4 separate regions of the Homo sapiens genome follow, and all the other regions are linked to region 1. The links come from fine-mapping of genetic effects on gene expression. A gene starts in region 1. Each other region holds a variant in brackets. All regions are shown on one strand. Distances are between the middles of the regions.

Region 1 (4,881 bases):
CTGGCCAACATGGTAAACCCCATCTCTACTACAAGTACAAAAATTAGCTGAGTGTGGTACCGTGTGTCTGTAATCACAGCCACTTGGGAGGCTGAGGCAGGAGAATTGCTTGAACCCAGGGGAGGAGGTTGCAGTGAGCCGAGATGGCGCCACTGCACTCCAGCCTAGGTGACAGGGCAAGACTCTGTCTCAAAAAAAACAAAGAACAAAAGACATGAACAGACACTTCTCAAAAGAAGACATACACGCATACAAGCAGCCAACAAACATGAAAAAATGCCCAACATCACTAATCATCAGAGAAATGCAAATCAAAACCACGAGGAGAAACCATTTCACATCAGTCAATGGCTATTATTATTATTATTTTTTCTGCCAGCATCTTGATTTTGGACAGAATGGCTGTTATTAAAAAGTCAAAAAATAGGAGATATTGGCAAGGCTGCAAAGAATGGGGAATACTTATACACTGTTGGTGGGAATGTAAATTAGTTCAGCCACTGTGGAAAGCAGCTTGGAGATTTCTCAAAGAACTTAAAATAGAACTACCCTTCAACCCAGCAATCCCGTTAGTGGGTACACACCCAAAAGAAAAGAAATCTTTCTACCAAAAAGCCATCTGCACTCATATGTGCATAGCAGCACTATTCACTATAGGTTAGATATGGGGTCAACTGAGGTGCCCATCAATAGTGGATTGGATAAAGAAAATGTGGTACATTTCCAACATGGAATACTATGCAGTCATGAAAAAGAATGAAATCTTGTCCTTTGCAGCAACATAGATGCAGCTGGAAGCCATTATCCTAAGTGAATTCATGCAGAAACAGAAAACCAAATATGACATGTCTCACTTCTAAGGGGGAGCTAAACCTTGGGTACCCACAGATATAAAGATGGGAACAAAAGACATTGGGGACTCCAGAAGGGTGGGGGGAGTAGGGCAAGGGCTGAAAAACTTCCTATTGGGTACTGTGCTCACTACCTGGGTAAGGAGATCAACAGAAAACCAAACCTCAGTGTCACCCAATATATCCCCTAACAAACCTGCACATGTACCCCTTGAATCTAAAATAAAAATAAAAATAATAAGTTGTTGATTGGCTACACATTTTTCTCTGTATCACAAGTTGCAGGAACATGCAGATAATGGGTGAGGCAGTGAGTCAGGAACAAAATGCCTTTAAACCATGGCCCCCACGGCCGGGTGCGGTAGCTCATGCCTGTAATCCCAGCACTTTGGGAGGCCGAGGTGAGTGGATCACTTGAGGTCAGGAGTTCAAGACTAGCCTGGCAAACATGGTGAAACCCCGTCTCTACCAAAAATACAAAAAATTAGCTGGACATGGTGGCAGGCCCCTGTAATCCCAGCTACTTGGGAGGCTGAGGCAGGAGAATTGCCTGAACCCAGGAGGTGGAGGTTGCAGTGAGCTGAGATCGCGCCATTGCACTCTCAGCCTGGGTAACAAAGCAAGACTCTAAAAACAAAAACAAAAAACAAACAAACAAACAAAAAACTATGGCCCCCCAAGCACTGCAGGGGGACCTGGACTGAAGTCCTATACTACTGTTTCTCTGGGCCTGATATATTTTGTTGTATCTAAGCTGCTTTCCTCAGATACAAATCCTTCAACAAACCCTAGGGAAAATTTCCTCTCAAGTCCCTCCAATTCTCCCAGTTCTGCCACGCTTTGTACACCCCTAACGAAAGGGGCCAGGTGCAGTAGCTCAGGCACGTAATCCCAACACTTTGAGAGGCTGAGGAGGGTGGATCACTTGAGCCCAGGAGTTCCAGACCAGCCTGGACAACATGGCAAGACTCCTGTCTCTACAAAAACTACAAAAATTAGCTGGGTATGGTGGTGCACACCTGCGGTCCCAGCTACTCGGGAAGCTGAGGCCGGAGGATCGCCTGAATCCAGGAGGTAGAGGCTGCAGTGAACCAAGTTCAAGACACTGCACTCCAGCCTGAACAGAGCGAGACCCCTGTCTCAAAAAAGTAAAATTAAAAATGGGGCCCGGCGCAGTGGCTCACGCCTGTAATTTCAACACTTTGGGAGGTGGAGGCGGGAGGATCGTTTGAGGTTGGGAGTTCGAGACCAGCCTGGCCAACATGGTGAAACCCGGTCTCCACTAAAAATACAAAACTTAGCCGGGCTTGGCGGCGCACGTCTGTAATCCCATCTACTATGAAGGCTGAGGTGGGAGGATCGCTTGAACTCGGGAGGTTGAAGCTGCAGTAAGCCGAGATCGCGCCACTGCACTCCAGCCTGGGCGACAGCGCGAGACTCCGTCTCAAAATAAATAAATAAATACATACATACATAAAGTAAAATAATGAATAAATAAAATAAGAAATGGGGAAATGGATCAGCAAGAAAGTGCCCGCCCCAGGCATGGGTGCCGTGCGGGACGGGGACGCGGCCCAGCCGGGAATCGGGGTGCCCAGGGTGCGATGTGCGAGGGGCTCCTGAGCGCGTGTGCTCCGCCCGACCCCGCCCTGTCCCCCCGACACACAGGTGGACCCAGGGTCAGCTCGTGCACCTGGGAAATGGCTCCCGCCGGGTAGCAGGGGCGGAGGGGCGGGGCTGGGCGGAGGGGCGGGGGGGCGGGGCCTGCCCGGGAGCCACGTCCGGGGAGGGGCCAGGTGAGCGGCAGACCCGGCACGCAGGTGGGGGCCGGCGGGGTCCGTGGCCAGGTAAGGCGGGCGGCGGCGGGAGGGAGCGCGCAGGGAGGAGGCCGTGCTCGGGGTGGGGGGGTGCGCCGCGGGGGCTCCCAGGGCGTGTACGGGGACAAGGGGCCGCTGGCCGGGTAGGGACGCCCAGGCGGGCGCGACGCCACGTGCGGCCGGGGGGAGACCCTCCGGCCGGCGCGCAGCCTCCGGGTCCCCTGTGGGTTCTAGACTCCCTCTCCCTTCACCTCCTTTCTTTCCCGCCCCCCCACACTCCCCTCCTCTGCTTTTTCCCCTGTCCTGTTCCTTCTCACCCCGCACCGCCTTCCCCGCCCTCGCCTCTCTCAGCCTGCGTTTTGGTCTGGTCTGGCCGGACGGTGTCAGCTCAAATGTTCCTTTTTTGCTTCCGTCCTGGGGTCTCAGGTTAGGTCGGGTCAGCGCCTGGGGGAGGCACCTCCCCCGCCCCCACACACCCCAAACCTACAAGGTGGGTGAGGTCATTCCCGTTTCATAGATGAGAAAACGGAGGCCGGGGCAGGTGCTGCGCTGATTCAAACTCAGGGGGTGGGGGGCTGGCCGGTTCAACACACAGCGGTGGAACCCCCCGGGAGTTAAAAGCAGAAACTTTTTTTTTTTTTTTTGACACCGAGTCTTGCTCTGTCCCCAGGCTGGATTGCAGTGTTGCATCTCTGCTCACTGCAACCTCCGCCTCCTGGGTTCAAGCGATTCTTGTGCCTCAGCCTCCCGAGTAGCTGGGATTACAGGGACTGACACCATGCCAGCTAATTTTTTGTATTTTTAGTACAGACAGGGTTTCACCATGTTGTCCAGGCTGGTCTCGACCACCTGACCTCAGGTGATCCGTCTTCCTGGGCCTCCCAAAGTGCTGGGATTACAGTCGTGAGACACCGCGCCCGGCCTAAAAGCCCAAAGTTTAAACCAATCCGCTAGCAGCCTCGGAGGTCGTCAGGAAGGCAGGGAGGCCCTGCCTTTCACTTTCCCTCAATCCTGTGGGGGGTGGGGGGGCTCCTGAGAATCCCTCGGGCTCTGCCACACCCTGACTTGGAAATTTCTCCGCTGCCTTGGGAGGAGTGTGAAGGCCCCGGAGAAGGAACCGCAGAGTCCACCCGGGAAGGAGGGTGGGATTGTTTGGCGGGATGGGGACAGCACCTTGGCCACCGACTTCAGGGTTTTGTGACAGAGGCTGTGTAGATTCCAGAGAGCTCTGTGCCGTCCCTCGCTTGCCTGTGAAATGCAGTGTTGGCATTTGTCCAGCTGAGAACTCAATGCTTAAGACTCAGCCGTTTCAGAAGTCGATGTCCTTTGGTTGGCCTCTCTGTTGGCAGCTTTAGGATCATGTTTGTGGACTCCTCATTCGATTCACTGACTAACCATTCCCCAAACCAACGCCAGAGTTGGGGGTAGGGCGAAGAGGGACATGGGATGTGGGCCTGAGCCCAGCTGATTCTTGTGGACAGCCAGCTGCCTGGTCCCTGCCCTCAGGGGCCCAGAGTCTGGCTTCTGTGTAGAGAGAATCCAAGGGTTTGTGGGAGCTTAGGAAGGGCTTCCTGGAGGAGGTGGCCATTGAGCTGGAAGGTGGATGGGAGGTGGATGGGGAAGAGAATGGCACCTACTGGCTAGGGATACTTCGCTTGTGAGGTACGGGTGGAAAAGTCCATGGAGTGCCTGACGGGGTGGGCCAATTTACTTGGATAACATCATTGGGTCATTGAAACTTTGTGTGTGTGTGTGTGTGTGTGTGTGTGTGTGTGTGACGCAGTTTTCGCTCTTGTCGCCCAGGCTGGAGTGCAATGGCACGATCTCAGCTCACTGCAACCTCTGCCTCCTTGGTTCAAGTGCTTCTCGTGCCTCAGCATCCAGAGTAGCTAGGATTACAGGCGCCCACCACCACACCCAGCTAATTTTTGTATTTTTAGTAGAAGTGGGGTTTCACCATGTTAGGCAGGCTGGTCTCAAACTCCTGACCTCAGACGATTTGTCTGCCTTGGCCTTCCAAAGTGCTTGGAGTGCTGGGATTACAGGCATGAGCCACCACACCCGGCCGAGTCATTGAAACTTACTTGACTTAAACATGCCTGGGACATCATGCCATCTGCCTAACAAGCCAGTTCTAGGCTGAGCTATTCATGGGCACACTGTAAACGATGGAGTTAAAGGCGGCTTCGGTTAAAGAGACGAGAGCAAGGAAC
Region 2 (4,410 bases), 34 kb after region 1:
CTTGACTCAGCCCTTCCTGCCTCATTCTTGTAAGGACCCCCTGCAATTATACTCAACCTCTGCACCCACGGGTTCTGTATCCAAGGATGCAACCAGCTGCAAATCAAAAATACTTCATAACATAATACATAAAAAATACAATAATAAAAGCAATGCAAAAATCTTAATACCACAATAAAACCATGCAAATTAAAAATAAAAAAAAAGTACACTGCCAGCCACGGTGACTCACACCTGTAATCCCAGCACTTTGGGAGGTCAAGGAAGGCAGATCACTTGAGGCCAGGGGTTCGAGACCAGTCTGGCCAACATGGTGAAACCCTGTCTCTACTAAAAAGACAAAAATTAGCTGAGCGTGGTGGTGCATGCCTGTAATTCCAGCTACTCAGGAGGCTGAGGCAGGAGAATTGCTTGAATCCAGGTGGTGGAGGTTGCAGTGAGCAGAGATCATGCCACTGCACTCCAGCCTGGGCGAGGGAGTGAGACTCGGTCTCAAACAAAACAAAACAACAACAAACAGTATAAAAATTCCTTACATAGCATTTACATTGTATTTGGTATTATAAGTAATCTAGAGGTGATTTGAACAATACGGGAGAATGTGTGTAGGTTCCTTGCAAACACTATGCCATTTTCTATCAGGGATTTGAGCTTCCAAAGATTTTGGTATCCCTGGGGGGTCCTGGAACCAATCCCTCCAGGATACTGAGAGACAACTGTACTTTGGGCCCAACTGGATAATCCACGATAACCCACTCATCTCAGGATCCTTAACTTAATCCCCTCTGCAGAATCGCTTTTGCCACAGACAGTCACATGCACAGGGTCCAGGGAGCGGGATGTGGACCTCACTGGGAGGCCTCTGTTCTGCCCGACGCAGGGGCTTTGCCTGTGTGGCTGCTGGGTCCTCACTGCCGGAAAGTGTTCTTGGCACATAGTAGGTACTCAATGCATATTTGTTGACTGACTGGAAGGAGGGGTGTCCTGTGGCACCCCCTACTCACCCCACCCTGGGACCCTCACACCTGTTGATGAACAGGGGCCTTGGCCCCATCCCCCGCCCCATTCCTGCACAGAGTGGTGCTGAGTAAATACCAGGTAAACACCCCAAGGACTGGGGTAGACCGGGACTGAGTGGGCAGGGAGGTGTGGGAAGCAGCTTCCAGCCCATGTGAGGCAGCCCTCAGGCCCCGCCTCACGCTCCCTCCTCGATGGGGTGTTGGTCTGGATGAGTGAATCTCAAACCTGACTTTGCATCAGAATCACCTCCAGAAATTGTTAGAAAAGCCAGTGCTTTCTCCTCGGGCACCCTCACCAGCCTCGTCATGCCCTAGGCCTCCTAACTCCATGGGACCTGAATCTACCCATCTCCTCGGGCCGCCAGCAAAGTGCCACAACCTGGCGGCTTAAGACAACAGGTCACTGTCTCAGTTCTGGAGGCCACCAGTCCAAAGTCAAGGTGTCTGCAGAGCTGCACTTTCCCGAAGGCTCCAGGGGAGGGTCTTTTTTGCATCTTCTGGTGGTTCCTGGTGTCCCTTGGCTTGCGGCCGCATCACACTAGTCTGTGACTCCGTCCTCACACACCCTCCCCTTGTATCTCCTGAGTCATTGGATTCAGGGCCCACCTTGATCCAGTTGACCACATCTTAACTACTTACATCTCCAAAGACCCGACTTCCAAATAAGGTCACATTCCGAGCTCCAGGAGGAATACTGGGGTGGGGAGGGGATAGTCTTCAACCCCCTACACCTGGGATCCTACATCTGCTCTAACCTTGAAATTCAAAATTCCTGTTCTTTTTTGCAGCTGAAAACATTTCTCTAAGAACCCTGATTGGTTTTGCATGAGAACCTCCCCTGCTAAGATTCAACTTAGGAGGGCAGCCTTTTCTTTCTTCCTCATATGGCAGTGACCCCAGTGCCTGCCCTCAACCCCAGCCCACCTTGGTGCTTTCGGCAGCACTGGCTTCCTGCTGGCTGCCAGTGTCAGGGTCTTTCATGGAGGCCTGGCTCAGAATTTGGAGCTGGAGGTTCAAGGTTAAGTCCACACCTTGCTGCCAGTTAGCAAGTCACTCTCCCTCTCTGAGCCTTAGTTGCCACCCCTGTCAATGTGGACAGTATCTGACCCTTAGGTCTTATTTTTCTCCCTCCATGGTGCTGGACACTGGATGGGCACTTGGTGTACAACCGAGGTAGAGTACACAGTGGGTGCATGGCTGAGGTAGGTCGCATAGTGGGTGCTCGGCTGATGTCGAGTGCATAATGGGTGCTCGGCTGAGGTAGGGCGTATAGTGGGTGCTCGACTGATGTAGAGTGTATAATGGGTGCTCGGCTGAGGGAGGGCGCGTACTGGGTGCTCGGCTGAGGCAGGGCGCCTAGTGGGTGCTCGGCTGAGGCAGGGCGCGTAGTGGGTGCACGGCTGAGGTAGGGCGCGTAGTGGGTGTGCAGCAGAGGTGGGTGACTGTCTTATGAAAGGCATCAGGAGGCTCCCTCATTCCCCGCCTTACTGGAGAATGCACTGACTTCCTTTA[ATCT/A]TCTTTGCCGCAGAGCTGCAGAGAGACAAGGCGGCGGCGGCTGCTGTGCTGGGTGCAGTGAGGAAGAGGCCCTCGGTGGTGCCCATGGCTGGCCAGGATCCTGCGCTGAGCACGAGTCACCCGTTCTACGACGTGGCCAGACATGGCATTCTGCAGGTGGCAGGTAGGGCCCCAGCTGGGCAGTCTGCAGGACCATGGGCAGAGCAGCCTTCCTCTCGGCAACTTTGAGGCAAAGTGGGCTCGTCAGGGGCTGCCTCACTGCAGCTGGGCAAGATTGAAATCTAATTAGAGCCAGGTGCAGTGGCTCATACCTTTAATCCTAGCACTTTGTGAGGCCAAAGTGGGCAGATTGCTTCAGCCCACGAATTCGAGACCAGCCTGGGCAATGTAGTGAGACCCCATCTCTACAAAAAAAATACAAAAATCAGCCGAGCATGGTGTTGCATGCCTGTATTCCCAGCTACTTGCGGGGCTGAGGTGGGAAGATTGCTTCAGCCCGGGAGGCAGAGGTTGCACAGTGAGCCAAGATCACACCACTGCACTCCAGCCTGGGTGACAGAGTGACAGAGTGGTGAGACCCTGTCTCAAAAAAACAAAAAAAAAAAAAAGAAAGAAGTAAAACTAATTGGAAAAGGAGGGCCTGCTAGTGTGTTTGGAGAAATAAATTACACACTTGTCAAAGCATTGCCCAGGTGCTCCGAGAAGCCAACGGGCAGTGTCCTGCTAGGCTTTAAAGAGCAGAGGCTGAAATTTAATGAATTGTTTTATTAATCAAGGGCACTGTTATGTCTCATCCAAAGCAACAAACATCTGCAAAAACGTAGACAACAAACAACTCCGTGCCCAGCAGTTGGTCAGAGGAAAACATCTTGCGTTGCTTTGTTTTGTTTTGTTTTGTTTTGTTTTGTTTTGTTTTGTTTGAGACAGGGTTTCGCTCTGTCGCCCAGGCTGGAGTGCAGTAGTACGATCCCAGCTCACAGCAACCTCTGCCTCCCGGGTTCAAGAGATTCTCCTCCTCAGCCTCCCAAGTAGCTGGGATTACAGGCGCTCACCCCCACACTCAGCTAATTTTTGTATTTTTAGTAGAGACGGGGTTTCGCCATTTTGGTCAGGCTGGTCTTGAACTCCTGACCTCAAGTGATCCACCTGTCTCGGTCTCCCAGAATGCTGGGATTATAGGCGTGAGCCACCGTGCCCGGCCTTGCATTGCTTTAATTTAGGTCTGAGCATGCATTTCTCCCATGGGCAGTGAGTCCAACCCTCACGTTGATGTCCCCTGCACTGAGCTCCATAATCATTAGCTGTCATCTCTGAGGGGCCTGGAATCTTGTCAAGGTAATAATAAAAAGAGGCCAGTTCTCAAACAGTTAAAGACCCCAGAAACATGATAAACACTTTAGTGCACACTGTGTACAGGAGGGACAGCAAGAGGGCAGGACTTGACAGGCACTCAGTCATTTGAAGCCCCAAATGTCCTTTTTTTTTTTTTTTTTTTTTCCCCCCAAATGTCCTTTTAAGAAAACTTCTAGGATTTAGGTAGAGGGAACACTGGACCGAGTGTGAGGAATGCAGATCCCCTGGCCAGGTGCCAACAGAAGGAAGGCAGGAAATATATATTTTTAATTTATATAGTGTTTAAAATTTTTATTATATGTTATTATTATTATTATTATTATTTTATTATTGTTATTTTGAGATGGAGTTTCATTTTGTCACCCAGACTGGAGTGCAATGGCACGGTCTTGGCTTACTCTAAACTCCACCTCCCGTGTTCAAGTGATTCTCCTGTCTCAGCCTCCCAAGTAGCTGGGATTACAGGCGCCTGCCACCACACCCAGCTAATTTTTGTGTTTTTAGTAGAGACAGGGTTTTGCCA
Region 3 (4,881 bases), 100 kb after region 1:
CAAGGCGTCCTGTCAAGGTCGCTGGACCCCAAACTCCCCTCAAAGGCAAATTTACACCCATTTACTCAGCAGTGCTCCTAAGCGCCTGCCAAATGCAACGCCCTTTCTGAGATGGGGAAGGTCTCTCCTACACCCTGGAAGACCATGAAAGATGTTGAGGGCTGACTGACTTTGGCTAGTGGATGGGAAGCCTGGGAGAGTTCAGAGCCAGGCTGAGCCTCATGGAGACAAATTTGATCATGCGCATAGAGGTACCTATCTGGTGGAGACAGAAGGAGGCACTACATTCAGCAGCATCCTACCAGCCGGGGCCAGAGCAGGCAAGATGGACAATGCTCCATCACCTGAATGCGCCAGGCTGTGTCCTAGAGAGAAGCTTCCAGAAGCCTCCCAACTTCATTAGCCCCTGCAGAGGGATGATGACTCCAGCCTCTGTAGGTTCCTGCTTGAGAAAACTCAATGCTGCCAGGCGAACTTACTGTTTGTTCCAGCCAAAACCTGGTGACAGGGAGATAGGCCCTGGAACCCCTCTTTGAGCAGCAGTTCCTTTAGAAAGCTTGCAATTGTGGGCCAGGCATGGTGGCTCACACCTGTAATCCCAGCACTTTGAGAGGCTGAGTTGGGTGGATCACTTGTCATAGGAGTTCAAGACCAGCCTGGTCAACATGGCAAAACCCTGTCTCTACTAAAATACAAAAATTAGCCAAGCGTGGTGGTGCACGCCTGTAATCCCAGCTACTCAGGAGGCTGAGGCAGGAGAATGACTTGAACCCAGGAGGCAGAGGTTGTAGTGAGCCAGGATCGTGCCATTGCACTGCAGCCTAGGTGACAGAACAAGACTCCATCTCAAAAAAAAAAAAAAAAAAAGCTTGCAATTATGAATCCTTTATCTGTCCTTTGAGATGAAAATCATCTACCACCCAGAGCTATGTCAAGGACCTGAGAGCCATCTCTTTGAAATGAAAACATTCAAAGTGCTACCTCTGCCTCCCAGTCCCCGGGGAGGGAAGGACCCAGCTCTGGCTTGCACCACTGCCTCCGGTCATAAAGATACCAGACATTTGTCCACTTCCGGATAGGCACCAATTAACAAACCTGGAGAGCGTAGTCATATTAAGCAACCCTCTGTTGGGAAGGAAAAAATCCTTTCCTGCTACCCGTCTTAGGTTCATTGGTGGGAACCCTGTAACTTGTTATTCTGACAAAAGACAGATTCACACGAGAAAAGCATGCCAGTTTATTTAATGTAAGTTTTACATGACACAGGAGCCTTTTAAATATTTATTTATTTATTTATTTATTTATTTAATTTTTGAGACAGTGTCTCGCTCTGTCGCCCAGGCTGGAGTGCCGTGGCATAATCTCGGCACACTGCAACCTCCACCTGACATGGGAACCTTTATGAAAATGAAGAAAATGAAGACCCAGGCTGGGCATGGTGGCTCATGCCTGTAATCCCAGCACTTTGGGAGGCCAAGGCAGAAAGATCACTTGAGTCCAAGAGTTTGAGTCCAAGAGTTTGAGTCCAGCCTGGGAAACATAGTGAGACCCCATCTCTACAAAAGATTTTAAAAATTGGCTGGGCTTGGTAGTGTATGCCTGTAGTCCCAGCTGCTCAGGAGGCTGAGGTGGGAGATCACCTGAGCCTGGGAGTTGGAGGCTACAGTGAGCCATGATCACACCACTGTACTCCAGCCTGGACAAAAGAGCAAGACCATGTCCCCAAAACAGAAGGAATGATGGAGGGAGGGAGGGAGGAAAGCAAGCAAGAAAGAAAAGAAATAAAGAAAATGGGCCGGGTGCAGTGGCTCACTCCTGTAAACTCAGCACTTCGGGAAGCCAAGGTGGGTGGATCACCTGAGGTCAGGAGTTTGAGATCAGCCTGGCCAACATGGTGAAACCCCGTCTCCACTAAAAATACAAAAATTAGCTGGGCGTGGTGGTGGACACCTGTAATCCTAGCTACTCAGGAGGCTGAGGCACGAGAACTGCTTTGAACCCAGGAGGCAGAGGTTGTAGTGAGCCGAGATCGCACTGCTGCACTCCAGCCTGGGCGACAGAGTGAGACTTTGTCAAAAAAAAAAAAAAAAAAAAAAAAAAAAGGAAGGGAGGAAGGAAGGTGAAGGAAGGTGAAGACATGGTTCAGCCCGAATGTTTTGATACTAGGTTTGGTGAAGAGTGGAAAGTCATGGAGCTTCAATTCCTTTTGTCATTCCGCCGTCTTTAGAGATAAGGCACCCTCTGG[A/G]CATAGGGAAGACCCCCTCCCATTAGAAGGTTTTATGATCTGCTACACAGAAGTAGGGGGAGTCAGAGAGAGCCCTTCCCACACCTGCCTTTCTTAGATTCCTTCAGCTCAATAACATATTCAGCATGCCCAGGCTCCATATTTGGGACAGTAGTGTTCCGGACCCCAGCATTCCCCCATCTGGAACTTTCCCCAGGAAGTTTTACAGTCCAGAAACTGAGTTGGTAGATTGTCTCATGTTGCATGAATCCTTCTCTCAGTGCTGTGACTAGGTCACTCCAGGGAAAGAGTTGTGTCTCAATTCAGGAGGTAGCGGTGGAGGTGGGAGTAGGGTGACTACCTAAGTCAGCCTGTTAATAAGGGGCCTTTCTTTGTCAACAAACATGAAGTTCAGTGGTTTGAACAAACCATAAGTTCCGGGGATTTTTTTTATTTTGTTTTTTGTTTGTTTGTTTTGTTTTTGAGGTGAAGTCTCACTCTCACTCAGGCTGGAGTGCAGTGGCACGATCTCGGCTCAGTGCAACCTCCACCTCCCAGGTTCAAGCCTTTCTCCTGCCCCAGCCTGCCGAGTAGCTGGGACGACAGGCCCGTGTCACCACGCCTGGCTAATTTTTTGTATTTTTAGTAGAGACAGCATTTCACTGTGTCAGCCAGGATGGTCTCAATCTCCTGACCTTGTGATCCGCCCACCTCAGCCTCCCAAAGTGCTGGGATTACAGGCATGAGCCACCGTGTCCGGCCTAAACTCCATTTTTTTAGTCAGGAGAACATTTAGTTGAGAAGATTCCTAGATGTTGGCTTGAAGTATCCTTTCATGGTAGAGAGAGAGTGGCAGCAGCTGGCCAGTGAATTCCATAGTTTGCAATTTAGATGTCTTTGGTGATGGCACTGGGTGTTCCGGTGAACTTTCTGAGCAGACTGAGTAGGAGGCACAAGGACTATCCGTACATCATCTGCTGTGATTTCTCTGAAGTTTATATCAAGTCTTCCAGCGTCAGCTTTTGGGGCTTTGGGGAAATGGCAGGTTTTAGTTCTTTGTCATGCCAACTCAGGGGGTAGGAGAAAACTGGAAATGTTAGCTTGGAGCGTCGTAGCCAGATATTGGAGGAAAGGAGAGGAACTGAGAACCCGCAAGCGTGCGCCGTAGTTTTCCACGGGAGCATCATTTCTCTGTACCGTTGCTTCTCTCTTGATTCTCAGTTACAAAATAAGTCTGGTTTCATTAGAATTTGGCCTGATTATTTACATAAGGGCAGCAAGAATGGGAATTGACCTATGTCGGCTCTTTTTAAGTCTACCTTGCTAGAACTTTTAATAAGGAATCTCAGATTCACTTTTTAAAAGCCTCTTGAGGCTAGAAAGCCAAGTTAAAAATTTGCCATCAGGGCCAGCTGCGGTGGTTCACGCCTGTAATCCTAGCACTTTGGGAGACCAAGGCGGGTGGATCACCTGAGGTTGGGAGTTTGAGACCAGTCTGACCAACATGGAGAAATCCCATCTCTACTAAAAATACAGAATTAGCCAGGCATGGTGGCATGCACCTGTAATCCCAGCTACTCGGGAGGCTGAGGCAGGAGGATCGCTTGAACCCGGGAGGCAGAGGTTGCAGTGAGCTGAGATCTCACCATTGCACTCCAGCCTGGGACACAGCGAGACTCTGTCTCAAAAAAAAAAAAAAAAAAAAAAAAAAAAAAAAAAAAAACCATCAGACTTTGCCTGCAGTATCTGTAGATTTGAGAGAATTCCTCTCTTCTCAAGGTTCTCAATATATTTTAAGTTTCCTGGGCCTGCCAGGAAGCGGCCTTGCTTACTCACTGTAACGTCATACATAACACTGAATAAGGCTAGTTGTCATTTCAAGGAATTCCCCTTGTATCTTTTTTTTTTTTTTTTTGAGACGGAGTCTTGCTTTGTTGCCCAGGTTGGAGTGCAGTGGCCTGATCTTGGCTCATTACAACTTCTGCCTCCTGGGCTCAAGTGATCCATCTGCCTCAGCCTCCGGAGTAGCTGGGATTACAGGTGTGCGCCGCCACACCCAGCTAATTGTATTTTTAGTAGAGACGGGCTTCACCATGTTGCCCAGGCTAGTCTTGAACTCCTGACCTCAAATGATCCACCCACCTCAACCTCCTAAAGTGCTGGGATTATAGGCATGAGCCACCATGCCAGGCCCTTGTTATGCATTTTTAACCCTACTTCACTAGTAAGCCCAACTACATAAAGATGTATGCTTGGATTATACTTAATATGGGTAACTCAGAAGATGCAGCTGGTTTTTTTGTTTTGTTTTTGTGTTGAGATGGAGTCTCGCTCTGTTGCCCAGGCTGGAGTGCAATGGCACCATCTCAGCTCACTGCAACCTCTGGCTCCTGGGTTCAAGCAATTCTCCCACCTCAGCCTCCCGAGTAGCTGGGATTACAGGCACCGGCCATCTTGCCTGGCTGATTTTTGTATTGTTGTAGAGACGGGGTTTCACCATGTTGCCATGTTGGCCAGGCTTGTCTTGAGCTCCTGACCTCAGGTGATCTGCCCGCCTTGGCCTCCCGAAGTGCTGGGATTACAGGCGTGAGCCACCGTGCCCAACCTATACAGCTGTTTTTAATAAACTAACAATATCAGACTAATCTTGTCAGAGT
Region 4 (4,881 bases), 110 kb after region 1:
TGGGACACTGCCTTTCCAAGAGCAACAAAGTGTGGGCGATTTGTGGTGCTGAGAATCCTGAGCAGGCAGTTCGTCTAGAGCAGGGTTGCAAACTTTTTCTGTAAAAGGCCAGATAGTAAATATGTTAGGCTTTGTGGGCCTTGTAGTCTCTGTTGCAACTACTCAGCTCTGCCCTGATGAGGCAAAAGCAGCCACAGGCAATGTACAAAATGTCCGTGGCTGTGTTCCAAGAAAACGTTATTGGCAAAAACAGGCAGTGGGCCAGATCTAAGCCATGGGCCGTAGTTTGCCAACCCCTGGTCTAGACCACTCCCATTTATAAAGTGATTCGGCTTTAGCAGCTTCCTGGAAGGTGGTGCTGCTGGCTGATAAAGCAGAGGGATGGAGCTTGTAGAATTCAGGTGATGATAGGGCTTGGATCTGAGTCCCCAGCGCGTCTCATGTTGAATTGAAACTTTGGAGGTGGGGACTGGTGGCAGGTGATTGGATCATGAGGGCAGATACCTCATGGGTTGGTGCTGTCCTCGAGATAGTGAGTTCTTACCAGATCTGGTTTAAAAGCATGTGGCACCTCTGTCCCACTCTCTCTTGCTCCTGTTTTTGCCACGTGATGCACCTCCTTCCTTTTTGCCTTCTGCCATAATTGGAAGCCTCCTGAGGCTTCTCCAGAAGCTGAACAGGTGCTGGTGCCATGCTTGTACAGCCTGTAGAACCATGAGCCAGTTAAACCTCTTTTCTTATAAATAACCCCATCTCAGCAAGAATAGCCAAACACACAGGTTTGCTGAGCAGAGCCATACGGCCAGAAGATAAGTGGGGGTCCCAAGCCCAAATGTGGGATAGTCCATCCTCAGAGCTGTCCTTCCTACACCCCTGTTCTCCTCCCGGGCCGGGATGCAGCGCTGCCCCTGGCCCCTCTGGAGCTCAGCAGGGAGCCCCATGCCCTTCCAGGTGTGGAGAGCAGCCTGCGTGTCACTGGCTGCCGCCAGATCTTACGGAGCCTCCCAGAGCACAACTACGTCGTCCTCCGCTACCTCATGGGCTTCCTGCATGCGGTGAGTGGGGAAGGGGGGAGCTTGGGGTGAAGCCCAGTGGCCTTCCCTCCCATGCTGGGCCCGCATGGACCAGTCCCCTCCTTGCCCTGGGTCTGGGGTCATGCCCTGCTTGGGCCTCGGAATACCACTCCCTGCCCCCCAAGGACCTCATCCAAGGCCTGGTCAGGCACCCATGCTGCTGCGGACCTCCTGCCTGTCAGACAGGGCGTACCTGCCCCTGCCTGCTCCTGTACCTGCTGTCCCTCAGCCATTGCCAGTGACTTTTGTTATTGGGGTCCTCTGCCCCCATGTCATTTCCTGCTTGGGCTGAGTCTCTAGGAGGTGGGAGCTGTGTCCACCACTGGTACAGAGCCCAGTGGACTGAGCTGACCATTCCTGGGGAAGGGATACACCCAGAACCACGTACATTAAGTTCCTGTGACTGCATCGTGGGTGCCTTAAAACAGATTTACTGTGTCACTCTTCTAGAGGCTAGCAGTCCAAAAGCAAGGTGTGGCGGGCTGTGCTCCTTCCAGAGGCTCTAGGGAAGGTTCCCCTTCCTGGCCTCTCCCAGCTCCTGGTCACTCCAGCTATGCCTCCAGCTCCCCCCTGGCCTTTGTCTGTGTGTGTGTCTAATCTCCCTCCACCTTTCCCTCCTAAGTGTGGACCCCCTGCCATATGTCACTGGGTTTAGGACCCACCCAGATGACGCGGGATGATCTCATCTTGAGATCCTCAACGACAGCTGCAACGGCCCTCGTTCCAAATAAGGTCACAGTCAGATTCTCTGTGGTCTATCTTAGAGGGGCCACCATTCAATCTACTACACACCAGGCTAAGCAAATGACCAGAGAGAGAGAAACCCTTCAGTGCTCTGGGCCTGGGCTTAGTGTGCTCTCCCCCTGGGGCAGGGATCCATTTGGAGCAAAAACCTGTGCAGCCAACAGGGGAAGGTTCAACACATCCACGTGGGTCCACCCCCAACCCCCAGACCCACGGCCTTGAATGTTTAACCCCCTCCATCTCTCCAGGCCTTCGCCCCAGGCTGTGCAGGGTGAGGAGAGCCTGAGCAGAGTAGGCGTCACATCCCAGAGTCTGTTGGAGAATGTCACTTCTTGGTTTTACAACAATTTTTTTTCTCCCTGTTGCTTGACATAATTTCTCAGAGGCCCAAAACTAAACTCTCCTAATTCTCTCAAAAAAATTTTTTGAGACAGTCTTGCTCTGTTGCCCTAGCTGGTGTGCACTGGTGCAATCTCAGCTCACTGCAACCCCAGCCTCCCACGTAGCTGGGATTACAGGTGAGAACCACCATGCCCGGCTAATTTTTGTTTTTTTAGTAGAGATGGGGTTTCGTCACATTGGCCAGGCTGATCTTGAACTCCTGACCTCAGGTGATCCACCTGCCTCGGCCTCTTAAGAGTGCTGGGATTACAGGTGTGAGCCACTGCACCCAGCCTACTTCTTTTTCATTAGGAGAGACTGATTTCTCTCTCTAGCCGCCACCTCCATGGGCACCGATGTGAATGCACCTGGTGGGGTGTGGTGTTGCGTGTTATCACCCCAGTGGCACCTGGGGGCCTCGGCTTGAGGAGGGGTGGCCTGCAGTGGGCCTGGCTGGTGCACACCTGCAACGGGCTTGGGGGACCGGCAGCCAGGGGGAGCCTGAAAGGCATCCAGCCATCTCACCTGAGCATCCTCAACAGATCTGTGAGGGTGGTGCCTGGCCCTGCCTCCCTCCAGTTCTCTGCTCTGCCCTGGTACTCACCGCCTCATGACCCCTGTTTCTGACTGAGGTTCCCCCCAGCTTGAATCTTGTAGGGAGGCAAGGAGCAGAGAACAGGCCCTGCCCTCACGTTGGTCCACATGGCCCCCTGCCACTGGCTGGCCACATGACCTTGGGCAAGTCTCCTGTACCTTCCA[G/C]GCCCCAGATTCCTCATCTGTAAGATGGGGAGTAATGACTCCCCCGTGCTGGGGTTGCACGTGTTGGCGGAGATGGACAAGGAGCCCCTTCTAGCAGGCAAGCTCTTTCCACTCTCCCTGCCCCTCGTAGTGGCCCCTAGATGTGCTGGCTGGTCCCCATCATGCCCAGTTCGCCACTCACAGAGCCGAGGCCAGAGAGGTCACCAAGTTCGTACCGTCTGTGCTACAGCCCATCCCCAAGATTGCATCTCCCCAGAAGGTGCAGTGGAAGAGGAGATAGTGGGGGGTTGAGGCTGTCACAGAAGGTCAGAGCCAGAGGGTCCTCCAGGACATGGAGGCCAAGCCTTCCTTTTAGAGATAGGGTAACTAAGGCCCTGAGTGGGCAGGTGGCTGCACAGGGTCCCCATTACTGGCTGCCGGCTCCCAGTCCAGTGCTCCTCTCACTACACCTACGCCTCTCCCTAAGTTCGGGAGGGAGTTCCAGGTGCCCGTGCCCCTTGGTGTTCACTCCCCTTTACTTGTGTGTGGTTTCCTCCAGGTGTCCCGGGAGAGCATCTTCAACAAAATGAACAGCTCTAACCTGGCCTGTGTCTTCGGGCTGAATTTGATCTGGCCATCCCAGGGGGTCTCCTCCCTGAGTGCCCTTGTGCCCCTGAACATGTTCACTGAACTGCTGATCGAGTACTATGAAAAGATCTTCAGCACCCCGGAGGCACCTGGGGAGCACGGCCTGGCACCATGGGAACAGGGGAGCAGGGCAGCCCCTTTGCAGGAGGCTGTGCCACGGACACAAGCCACGGGCCTCACCAAGCCTACCCTACCTCCGAGTCCCCTGATGGCAGCCAGAAGACGTCTCTAGTGTTGCGAACACTCTGTATATTTCGAGCTACCTCCCACACCTGTCTGTGCACTTGTATGTTTTGTAAACTTGGCATCTGTAAAAATAACCAGCCATTAGATGAATTCAGAACCTTCTAATGAAAACTCCATGCCTCTGGTCCTTGGACTCTTGTCCATGGTTCCTGAGCTGTGGACCGGGATAGAATAATGCATTTGTTAGGATGGATGTTTTGAATCCCAACCCAATGTGGTTTAACTGAAAACAGGAATGGAGTGGCTAACGGCTGCCAGGTCCTGCTGCTGCCACACTGCTGTGTAACACACCACCTAAGCCCAGTCACTGAAAGTTACTGCCCAGGAGTCAGTGGGTCAGCTGGGTGGTTCTATTGGTCTTTTGAGGGGGTCACTTACATGTCCTGGCTGAGCTGGCTGGCAGCTGGGGTGACTCTGTTCTCCCCCAGGTGTCCCAAGTCCTTCCAATGGCCAAACGGGGCACATTCTTACAACATAGGTCCAGGTGCACACACAAGCGCTATTGCAAGCAGTTTTCATGCTTTGACTGGCGTCCTGTATGCTCACATCTCATTGGCCAAAGCAAGCCTGGTGGCCAAGGCCAGGGTCACAGAGGGAGGGCCCTGCAAAGGGGGTGGATATGGGGAGGGTGAAGAATTGGGCATAAAGCAGCCAAGCTGCCCGAGGGCTCTGGGGTGCGACAGGACTCTGCAGTCTCAGGCAGGCTGACTCTTGGGCTGGCAAAACGGGCCCTGTATTTCCATCAGATATGGTAGAGAAGGATACAACTTCTTAGTGCCACAGTCCCAGCAAAAAAGCCCCAGGTTCACCCTGATTGGACAAGCCTAGGTCACATGCTCACCTTAGACCCATTGCTGCAGCCAGGGAAGGCTCTGATTGGCTTAGGCCTGAGTCTTGTGCCCCACCCAGACCAGGCAGTGGGGGAGGAGTGGCAGGCCGCTGCAGGGGATTACCCACGAGTCCCACGCTGCCGTCTCCCCAGCTCTTGATGCAGGGAGAAGCGGGGGAGGTTCTGGGGAGCAAAGGACAAAAGTCCCCTCTACAGATCCCC

Direction of the effects. Positions count from the first base shown, and alleles are read on the strand shown. Sizes are in standard deviations (SD) of each study's normalised expression. Not every link is listed here.
In carriers of allele G in region 4, the expression in spleen of the gene that starts at base 2,646 in region 1 tends to be higher than with C alone (small effect, 0.38 SD a copy in GTEx).

The links. PIP is the estimated chance that this variant, and not a neighbour inherited with it, causes the effect.
Region 2: its variant is the best candidate, but not a certain one, in a credible set for the expression of ARHGAP8 in whole blood (TOPMed, PIP 0.60).
Region 3: its variant is the best candidate, but not a certain one, in a credible set for the expression of ARHGAP8 in pancreas (GTEx, PIP 0.80).
Region 4: its variant is the best candidate, but not a certain one, in a credible set for the expression of ARHGAP8 in spleen (GTEx, PIP 0.76).

What each region holds. Positions count from the first base shown.
Region 1 is chr22:44,749,930-44,754,810 of GRCh38, forward strand. It overlaps ARHGAP8 (Rho GTPase activating protein 8), which reads left to right and starts at 2,646. Exons shown (of 12, transcript NM_181335.3): 1 at 2,646-2,698. All of the region lies in intron 4 of PRR5-ARHGAP8 (PRR5-ARHGAP8 readthrough), which reads left to right.
Region 2 is chr22:44,783,910-44,788,319 of GRCh38, forward strand. PRR5-ARHGAP8 (PRR5-ARHGAP8 readthrough) reads left to right here. Exons shown (of 15, transcript NM_181334.6): 5 at 2,548-2,697. ARHGAP8 (Rho GTPase activating protein 8) reads left to right here. Exons shown (of 12, transcript NM_181335.3): 2 at 2,548-2,697. The coding sequence starts at 2,619. Among named protein-coding and RNA genes, the nearest start is that of ARHGAP8, 34 kb to the left of the region's middle. RefSeq lists enhancers at 1,979-2,519, 2,520-3,060. The variant ATCT/A (reference allele first, on the strand shown) is at 2,532.
Region 3 is chr22:44,850,116-44,854,996 of GRCh38, forward strand. The region is part of intron 13 of PRR5-ARHGAP8 (PRR5-ARHGAP8 readthrough); the gene reads left to right. All of the region lies in intron 10 of ARHGAP8 (Rho GTPase activating protein 8), which reads left to right. Among named protein-coding and RNA genes, the nearest start is that of ARHGAP8, 100 kb to the left of the region's middle. The variant A/G (reference allele first, on the strand shown) is at 2,246.
Region 4 is chr22:44,858,780-44,863,660 of GRCh38, forward strand. It overlaps PRR5-ARHGAP8 (PRR5-ARHGAP8 readthrough), which reads left to right. Exons shown (of 15, transcript NM_181334.6): 14 at 952-1,055; 15 at 3,496-4,005. The coding sequence ends at 3,816. It overlaps ARHGAP8 (Rho GTPase activating protein 8), which reads left to right. Exons shown (of 12, transcript NM_181335.3): 11 at 952-1,055; 12 at 3,496-4,005. The coding sequence ends at 3,816. LOC105373062 (a long non-coding RNA gene) reads right to left here. Exons shown (of 4, transcript XR_938302.3): 2 at 4,672-4,842; 3 at 4,209-4,432; 4 at 677-704. Among named protein-coding and RNA genes, the nearest start is that of ARHGAP8, 110 kb to the left of the region's middle. RefSeq lists enhancers at 575-1,269, 4,794-4,881. The variant G/C (reference allele first, on the strand shown) is at 2,958.